Homo sapiens: one gene and its partners. The protein of the gene in region 1 interacts with the protein of each later gene in a pairwise test. Each region holds a gene or a part of one and is shown in the gene's direction. Other genes may lie near its edges.

Evidence for each region.
Region 2: the proteins of PARVG (region 1) and ZNF677 interact in a two-hybrid assay, tested with the Homo sapiens proteins (one large-scale study listed by BioGRID and IntAct).
Region 3: the proteins of PARVG (region 1) and ANTKMT interact in binary tests that used the Homo sapiens proteins (3 or more experiments, as listed by UniProt).

What each region holds. Positions count from the first base shown.
Region 1 is NC_000022.11:44,194,407-44,198,061, forward strand, and holds part of PARVG (gamma-parvin), read left to right. Parts: intron 1-1,748; coding exon 1,749-1,807; intron 1,808-1,940; coding exon 1,941-2,009; intron 2,010-3,655. UniProt on the Homo sapiens protein: Plays a role with ILK in promoting the cell adhesion and spreading of leukocytes.
Region 2 is NC_000019.10:53,237,817-53,240,292, reverse strand, and holds part of ZNF677 (zinc finger protein 677), read left to right. Parts: exon of another isoform or gene 1-1,099; coding exon of another isoform or gene 1,100-1,131; exon of another isoform or gene 1,132-1,697; intron 1,698-1,735; coding exon 1,736-2,476. UniProt on the Homo sapiens protein: May be involved in transcriptional regulation.
Region 3 is NC_000016.10:719,629-723,228, forward strand, and holds ANTKMT (adenine nucleotide translocase lysine N-methyltransferase), read left to right. Parts: upstream 1-1,517; 5' UTR 1,518-1,646; coding exon 1,647-1,808; intron 1,809-1,969; coding exon 1,970-2,074; intron 2,075-2,172; coding exon 2,173-2,313; intron 2,314-2,455; coding exon 2,456-2,506; intron 2,507-2,680; coding exon 2,681-2,929; 3' UTR 2,930-2,962; downstream 2,963-3,600. Other genes in the region: CCDC78 (coiled-coil domain-containing protein 78), read right to left, coding at 3,050-3,161, 3,294-3,533.

The sequences.
Region 1 (3,655 bases):
CCATCCATTAATCTATTTATCCATCTATTGATCCATCCTTTCTTCCATTCATCTATCTACTTACCCACTTATCCACCCACCCACCTATCCATCCATCCATTCATACACCCATGCATCCATCAACCCATTCTTCCATTCATCTATCCACCCACCCATCCATTTATCCATCCCTCCATCCATCCATTCATGCCTCCATTCATCCATCCACCTACCCATCCATCACCTGTCCATCCATCCATCCACCTATCCATCCATCAACCTATCCATCCATCCATCCATCCATCCACCCACCCACCTATCCACGCATTCATCCATCCATCCATCCCTCCATCCATCCATTCATGCTTCCATTCATCCATCCGCCTACCCATCCATCATCTATCCATCCATCCATCCATACACCCACCTATCCATATATTCATCCATCCATCCATCCATCTATCCATCCATCCACCCACACACCTATCCATCCATCCATTCATCTATCCACCTACCCACCTATTCATCCACCCATTCATCTATCTACCCATCCAACCACCTATGTATTCACCCATATCCATCCATCCTAACACTATTTTTCCTCCCTATACCCTCCCCACTTAGACACATAGCTATGTGGGCAGGGATGCTATGAGGGGCACCTTCCCTGCAGAGGTAGAGATAATAACCTGCCAGGAGCTTCTGAGAATGGGGGCTGAGGAAGGCGGAGTTTGGGGAGAAAGGAGAAAGGAGGGGCAAGGAGGGCTGGCTGAGGATCTGTGTATGTAGCAGGAGGGGCAGCCTGAGGACATGAGGGGTTGCCCAGGGAGCAGTATTTTGGGCAGGGGGCAGCATGAGAAGTGGGTGTCAGAGGGTGAAGAAAGGACACAGAGCAGGGGCATTTTAACGTGCATGATGCTATTTGGTGCTACTTTTCCCCCTTCACTAACAAGGGAACTGAAACAGAGAGAGGTGCTGTGACTTGCTTAGAGTCACACAGCTGCTGAGTGGCAGAAGCCACAGCAAACTCAGGCCAGTCTGTGTATTTGGTGCCCAAGGACCAGTGTCCCCATGGGAGGTATGTTAGCTGCAAATAGCAGGAATCCAGCTAGTGCACAAAGGGCATTAGCCTGAGGACATGGGCACCCGAGGCTGGACCCCAGGGCCTGAGCCGCTGTTCCCAGACCCCAAGGGAGTGACTGAGTTGCTGAAGAGCTGGCCTTTTGCAGGCAGCAGGTTCAGACACTCTTGGGGGCGGGGGGAGGCAGCAGGGAGCAGTCCTCACTCAGCCAATTTAAAACCAAGGGGAGGAGACTCATGGACCCTGATCACCCACCTGTGGCAGCTCCCGTGGCCCTGGGGAGTGGAGTAGGGCCCTGGGAGGAGGGAGTGCCAGCTGGCAGATAAAGGGATGCAGCTGTGCAGATGTAGTAACAGGTGTCAGCTGCAGGAAGAGTGGCTGTTTATGAAGTCCTACTGTGTGCCCAGTCACTGTGCCATGGGGCCATGTGTGTTATCTGCTATGGAATTCCATCTCTGCAACAACCCCAGCTAGGGAGGCACAGAGAGAGACGGTGACTCCCCTGGGGCCACACGGCCAGGAGAGCAGTGACTCAAATCCAGGTCTGTTTTATTTGAGAACCATGATGTAAAACGACAGCTCCCTCTGGACTGGTTATTCTAAGAAACTTTTGTGAAAAAAAAAATTCCCTGTTTGGCACAAAGATAATAGCATCGTAATGAGGTGTTTATTGGATCTGTGTCTGCAGAGGACGTCTTTGATGAATTATTTAAGCTGGCTCCGGAGAAAGTGAACGCAGTGAAAGAGGTAGGAGAGATCAAAGCTCTCAGCGGCTCTCAGGCTGCCCACCCCACCCACTGCCCACCTGCGCTGTAGGAGGGAATCACGGGTCCTCCCATCACACCTGCTGTGTGCTAGGCCCTTGTTCTTCCCTGGTTAGGCCATCGTGAACTTTGTCAACCAGAAGCTGGACCGCCTGGGCCTGTCTGTGCAGAATCTGGACACCCAGGTAGGGACTGAGCTGCGGCGTCCCCAGGCAGGGCAGGGCCACTGGCCGTAGGAAGGAAAGAGGGTTCTGCAGGCCCTGGGAACCTGCTGTGTGGTGGGGGTTGCATCACCTCTTGGAGCCTTAGGGTCCCCCTCCCCGGTGGGACTGTTGCTGGCAGGCAGCAGTGGTCACCAGGGACATGGTGGGATCCCGGGGGTGGAGGTGTGGGAACACTTCACAAAGCTGGAGTCACCTCGGCTGTCACTGCTTCTCATTGTTATAATTTTATTTTATAATTAATCTCAGACTAGCTGATGCCAAGACTTGAAGCATATGAGTCTTCCCTGCGTGGTTGTGTTCGCCCAAACAGAATTTATTAGATTTGTCCCATGTGCCAGGCGTAGGTGACAGCGCAGCCCAGCCGTCTGCAGGCTCCATGTCTCTCACAAGCACCCTGAGGAGCCCAGCCCCTCCCCCGGCTGACTTAAGTCGAATTTTCCCAGGAGCAGGAGCAGAATCTCAGGGGGTCAGCACCCACCATGGGCTGTGGCTTTCCACAGTGAAGCTGTGTCCCTGTAGGCTTCCCACACTGCAGGGGAGCAGGGGGTGCACAGTAGCAGACCGGCTGCCAGCCCGGGGCCTGCAGAGTGGGCATGGAGTCTGCTGGATGCCAGTGGCCTGAATGGGACATGACGTAGGCATCTGGCCACCTGGGTTCTGCTGGGTGCTGGGGTCTGGGGTGGGGAGGGAGTCTGGTCCCAGATGGACCAGTTGGCTCATGAAGATCGTAGCCAGAGCTGCTGACCTCTCAGAGAGACTCTGGATGGGCATTGGCTGGGGAGGGAGGGGTTAATGTACTCCCATGCCTAGTAGCTAAAACCAATAAAGCCCTCACTATGTGCCAGTCCCAGGGCAAAATGCTTTCCATGTTAACTCATTGAATCCTCTCCATAATCCTCTGAAGTGGGAACTGTACTACCCCACTTACAGAGGAGGATGTTAAGGCACAGAGAGGTTAATTAACTTGTCTAAAGTCACACAGTGATAAGTAGTGGACCTGGGATTTGAACCCAGGCAGCTGGGGCCAGAGTTAGTGCTTATAACCACCTCACATGGTGGCCACGTGAGAAGTTTGTGTGTGATATGGTGTGGCAGCATGGCAGGGTGGAAGTATCACGCTCTGTAGCCAGACAGACACACATTTCCCTCCTGCCTCCACCACTTATGGGCCCTGGGGTCTGCTGAGAACCCTCCACATTTGCTGTGTGACCTTGGGTGAGTTACTGGACTTCTCTGAACCTCAGGCTCTTCTTCTTATAAAGTGGGTACAAGATAGCAACTTGGTAGAATTGTGAGTGATACATGAGCTGGTGAGCCCCACGTGTTTGGTATATTACCTGGCACGCTGCCGGCATGAAATAAGTGAGAGATTTGTAGTTTTATTATATTTTATGTGGGTATAAACAGGATGATTTCTGAGATTTACATTCTACCTGTTCTATCTGTATCTCTCCCTTGGTAAAATAATGGGTTTCAGAGACTCATGGCATGTGCAAAGGTGGTATTTAGAGACTGTTCAATAAAATGGGGTAAGGAAGTCCCTTGCATTTCAGTTGTATTACCAAGGAATAGCAGCAGAAAAGATTTCAGGCCCAAACTAATAACAT
Region 2 (2,476 bases), on another chromosome or scaffold:
CCTGGGCAACAGAGCGAGACTCCATCTCAAAAAATAGATAAATAAAATAAATTTCTTCCATGTCTTTTTATAGCTTGACAGCTCATTTCTTTTTAGCACAGAATAACATCCCTTCATTGCACACACTGTGTAAAGAATGACTCCTGCTTATACACAGGACAGCTTACTCAGGACAGCAACATGATCTGGTCACTGTCTAAACAACTTGTGCAAGATAAGGTGACTTAAATGCTATCTGAGAGCAGTGGTGCTGTCACACTATAGGTGACACAGCTCAGGTCCCATAATCTGCCTTGAAACATTTCTTCCTACACTCCTCGTATTTGCTGTGATTTATAATCCGTGCTGCCCTGGGTGGCCAGTGGTGCTTAATGCTGTGAACATGGCATCTTAGCCCGCACACACAGGTTCAGATTCTGGCTTTCAGATGTGCTTTCTCTGTGAGTTAGGGATAGATATGTAAACCTCTTCAGCCCTTTGTTTTGGTATGAAAAGGTGCGATAATTTACCTCAAGAGGATTTACATCAATTAGTGCTGTTAGAGACCTTAGTAACTTGCATAGCATTTAGTATGCTTTGAAAAGTTACCTTTATGAATAAGATATGTCAAGTGTCTGTCATGTTTCTTATGAGATTGACCTTTGCCTTCATTATATCTTACATATTTTCTTTTTTGTAATTTTTTTTTTCATATCAACATTTCTCTGACTCTACATAATAAAATGTTAAAGCACACAGCTTTCATTATATGTATTTTTTGGCCATAGAACTGGAAAACTAGATGACATTTCCTAGTCAGGGAGTTTCTCTATATACTGCTGTCATATAACTGCAGGCATGAAATTATTTCAGACTCCCCTCCTAATTCTTCATCTTTATAGTAATGTGCATTTACCTGAAGCTGATATTTCAAAATTTAGTGATTCTCAACATATTATTTTTCCTATTGTGTGTCCCTTCTGTTTTTTCTGTAGTTCATAAGCAGTAATTCTTTAGAATTTCACTGACAATTTTGTGTAATTGTGGTTGTTCATTAACTTGCCTGTTAGATTTTCACAGGTTACTAAAGTGTTTTATTTATTTTTGTAATGATTTACAGATGATGGTTTTTCAGTATATATTATGCAATAGAACCACCATGCACAAATTGTTAATGCTGCAAAATGCACATTCTACATGGGTGTAAGTAGTTTTATAACAAGTACTCACATTTGCAATTTGTAAATATTCAAAATTTTATTAAATTCTTCCGAATTTTTTCTTTCAGTGTTTTGTTTGCAATTATGAATTGTCATTTTTAAATATTTTTTATTAGATAAGCTTGAGCTGTGCCTTACCTTTTGTGTGTAATAATTATGTACTAAATAATGCATTACTATTTGTTTATCTTCAAATATGAGACTACCATATAGCTATGCCAATTTACGTGTTCCTTGGAGTGGTGGTGGAAAAATACCTCTTCTTTCAGAGTTTATGTGGATTTACATAGTATGAGTGTTTTAGCTATAGGGTGTTTTAAACTGTGCTTAAAATAATTTGTTACATGTTTTGTTACTGTGTTACTTTATTGAGGACAGCTAGTCCCTTTGTGTTGTTAAACGTTTAAAGACAGTTGAGAAGCTTCATAACTCTGTTCATTGTAAATCTTAGCTTTCTTGTAATATGTATTTTAATAAAATATTTACCTTGCAACTCTATTTGATGGAAAGCCTGTGGTTTTTTTAATATCTTTCAGATATTTCTGTTGGATTTACAAGCAAGGGATTATCACCAAAGGAAAATAATAAAGAGGAATTATACCATCTGGTGATATTAGAAAGAAAGGAAAGCCATGGCATCAACAATTTTGACCTCAAGGAAGTCTGGGAAAATATGCCTAAGTTTGACAGCCTGTGGGACTATGATGTAAAAAATTACAAAGGAATGCCTTTGACCTGTAACAAAAATCTCACTCACAGAAAAGATCAACAACATAATAAATCCTCAATACATTTCTCTTTAAAGCAGAGTGTTTCTATAAGAGATAGTGCACACCAGTATTTCATCCATGACAAGCCATTTATAAGGAATTTGTTAAAACTGAAAAATAACATAAGGTATGCCGGAAACAAATACGTGAAGTGTTTTGAAAATAAAATTGGATTAAGCTTACAGGCACAGCTGGCTGAACTACAGAGATTTCAAACTGGGGAGAAAATGTATGAATGTAATCCAGTTGAGAAGTCTATCAATAGTTCCTCAGTTTCACCACTTCCTCCTTGTGTCAAAAACATTTGTAATAAATATAGGAAGATTTTGAAATACCCTTTATTACATACACAGTATGGGAGAACACACATTAGAGAAAAATCATACAAGTGTAATGACTGTGGAAAGGCTTTTAGCAAAAGTTCGAACCTCACTAATCATCAGAGAATTCACTCTGGACAGAGACCTTACAAATGTAACGAGTGTGGCAAAGCCTTTAACCAGTGTT
Region 3 (3,600 bases), on another chromosome or scaffold:
CTAATAAAACACAAAAAATTAGCCAGACATGGTGGCATGCATCTGTAATCCCAGCTACTCAAAAGGCTGAGGCAGAGGAATCACTTGAACCTGGAAGGCAGAGGTTGCAGTGAGCCAAGACTGCGCCACTGCACTCCAACCTGGGCGAAAGAGCGAGACTCAAGTCTCAAAAAAAAAAAAAAAAAAAAAAAAAAAAAAAAAAGAAGAGTGGAGAGTGCACGCTAGAGTCCAATTAGGTGCATTCATCCAGTAAGCCTCCTAGGTAACTGCTCTAGGTGCAGGGAATAATGCAGGCAGCAGGACAGGAATGGGCGCTGTCAGCTCCCCCTAGAGCTCAGTGTACATACACCCTTCCTTTCCTGGGAGGGCCGTTCCAGGCCCCCAGGAGACAGGACACGCTGAGCTGGGTGGGGCTGGGGCCAACGTGGGCAGGCCTGTGAGACTCTGCACTTGGGAGCTGGGGGCTGTGGTCTGCGGCATACCCATGTCTGGAAGCAGCCTCTGTCCCTGCAGGGGCTCTAGACCCCAGCCACGGATGGCTAAGGAGGAGCTAGGCCAGGGCACGCATAGACAACCCCCGACATTCACGGGTGTTCAGCCCTACCCTGGGTGTGGAGGTCGTGGCCCAGCTGCCTGACCCAGAGCTCGGCTCTTCCACTTGCGCTTCCCACCCCCAGCTTCACAAGGTCACCTCCAGGAACTCAGTCTTTTTGTGTGTTGTTTTCTGGAGAAGGAAGGTGATCTCCCCACTCCCGGGGCTGTCTGCCTTCCCTGTAGCTGGCAGGTGCCAGAGGCCCCCGCCTGTGACATCCGGCTTTCCTCCCACCACACTCGCCTGAGAGCCAGCATCTGTCTTCTTGGGCCTGCTCAAGCTCTCCTCCGTGTCAGCCCCTCCTCCATGCCCTTCTCCCTCAGACCCCACCCCCCATCCCTTCACCGCCCACTGGGGCTCATCGCTCAGGCTGTAGGAGGGAAATGGAAGGATGTCCTCCCGGGCTCTGGCTGGCGCTGGGTGTCCGAGTCAGCGGAGCGCCCCCAGCAGTCTCCCCGAGGCAGAGTCATGGGGGTGCTGGCGCCTGGACGCTGTCTCATCCCGGGGAGCCGCTTTCCCACCGGCTCCCTGGGCTCCAGCCGCCCCACGCGAGCCCCCGGCTGGTTCTGGGGCCAGGACCGCCCCTCTCCAAGGCAGACTTCCCTTCATTCCACGACAAAGACGCGCAGCCCCGTTTCCCTGGGGCTCTAGCCCGTGAGATCGCCGGGTGTATCCCGACTCCCGCCGGCACGTGCGCTCCCCCAGGGCAGGGCCTGCCTGTCCCCTTCCGCGGGTCGCCAGCAGCCAGCACAGGCCGCAAACGGCGGTCCGCAGAGCGGACCAACGGAGCCGACCCTCGCAGGCTTGGAGCCGGACGCGGCGGGGCAGAGCCCCCGAGGCTGCAGCTCGCCGGAACCCGCGGGAGGGCAGCCGGGCTGGGCGGAGCGCACAGCGCCACGGACCGACCGCGCAGGCTCTGCCGGCCACTTCCGGTGTCGCGCGGCGGCTCCCGGCAGGAGGCAGAGGGCACACCGCCAGCCCCAGGCCAGGCTGCGAGGGCCGCGGACCCGAGCCGGGAAGGACCTTGGGCGGACGAGCCGCGCGTCCCGCAGCCATGGAGCAGGACGACCCGGTCGAGGCGCTGACGGAGCTGCGCGAGCGGCGGCTGGGCGCGCTGGAGCTGCTGCAGGCGGCGGCCGGCTCGGGCTTGGCAGCCTACGCGGTGTGGGCGCTGCTGCTCCAGCCCGGCTTCCGGCGCGTGCCGCTGCGGCTGCAGGTGCGGGGCGGGGCCAGGCCGGGCAGGGGAGCTCGGCTGCCGCTCAGGGTCTCAAGGTCTGGGCGTGGCCGGGGTGAGCTCCGCCCCGCCGTGTGGTAGTTCGGGCCGGGCTGCGGGCGGGGCGGGAGCGGCCAGTGGACTCTCGCCGCCACCCGGTCCAGGTGCCCTACGTCGGCGCGAGCGCGCGGCAGGTGGAGCACGTGTTGTCGCTGCTGCGAGGACGCCCCGGAAAAACGGTGGATCTGGGCTCTGGCGACGGCAGGATCGTAAGTGCCTGCGTCTGGGTCTTCGCCGCCCCACACCGCCCACCTGCTGGCGGGCGCCCCTGCCCACATCCTGGTTCCCACACTCTCGGTGCCCACAGGTGCTGGCGGCCCACAGGTGCGGCCTCCGCCCGGCCGTGGGCTACGAGCTGAACCCCTGGCTGGTGGCGCTGGCGCGGCTGCACGCCTGGAGGGCCGGCTGTGCCGGCAGCGTCTGCTATCGCCGCAAGGATCTCTGGAAGGTAACCTGGGGATCCCTGGCCACCCGCTGACAGCCCAAGGTGCGGCTGACACCTGCGAGGGCTGGGGGCCGGGACTCGGAAGCTGCGATGACCCGGTGCCCACCAGGCCTCTCCCCGGCCGGGGCGACTTCTCTTCCGGCAGGTGAGCCTGAGGGACTGCCGCAACGTGTCTGTGTTCCTGGCCCCTAGCGTGGTAGGTGCGGGGTTGCCAGCCCCGCTGGGAAGCCCCAGCCACACCCCAGGGTGTTTGCTGCTCTGAGGCCTGGGCCTGCCTGGTGGGTGCTAGGCTTGGGGCTAGGGGGGTGAGCGCGGCTGTTTTCTACCGGCCCCGCCCCCGCCCCCTCTACTCTGCTGTTCTCTCCCTCAGCTCCCGCTGCTGGAGGACAAGCTGCGGACAGAGCTGCCTGCTGGGGCCCGCGTGGTGTCTGGGCGCTTCCCACTCCCCACCTGGCAGCCTGTGACCGCGGTTGGCGAGGGCCTGGACCGAGTATGGGCTTATGATGTTCCTGAGGGTGGGCAGGCTGGGGAGGCCGCCTCCTCGCGGATACCCATCCAGGCTGCCCCCGGACCTAGTTCTGCCCCCATCCCGGGGGGCCTTATTTCTCAGGCCAGCTGAGTATTAGACACGATAAAGACTCTGTGGGTTCTATCCTGACTCATGTTTTATGGGGGGCTGGGTGGGAGGGTTCTGTGCTGGCTGAGGAGCTCTGCTCTGCTCTGCTCCTTGGGAGACGGCCTAGTGGCTGCCGGTCCTTGGATGCTGGGGCTTGGCTGGAGGCACAGCCCCCACTTTCCAGGGGTCCCCTGCACCTGCCAGCTTCCTCAGCCTCAGGATTTCGTGCTTGTACCTGCTCAGAGGAACCATGCTTAAGTGACTTGCCCAGCTGTGGACAGGTCTGCTTTTAGCGCCTGAGGCAGCCATCATCCTTCATTCCAACCAGACCAGGGCCCTGGGGTCACACCCAGCTCCCTCTGCCCACCTGCCCAGGTGCTGGTCCACGTACTCCTGTAGCTCAGAAAGTTGCTCTTCAGCCATCGTGGCCCGGACCAGCAGCTGTGCCCGCTCCCGTTCCAGCTCTGCCTGGCATGGGGATGTAAGCCATGAGCTGGGGCATGGCGTGAGGATGGGCCTGGGCCAGCCCTTGCCTCCTACCTGGGTGCTGCGGGAGAAGTCCCGGAGCTTCTGGTGGATCTGGGCCCAGGATGCAGCGTCCAGGCCCCTGTGAGGGGAGAGGAAAGGAGGAGTGGTTTTGAGAGCTGGCATGGTGACACAGGGACAGACGTGAC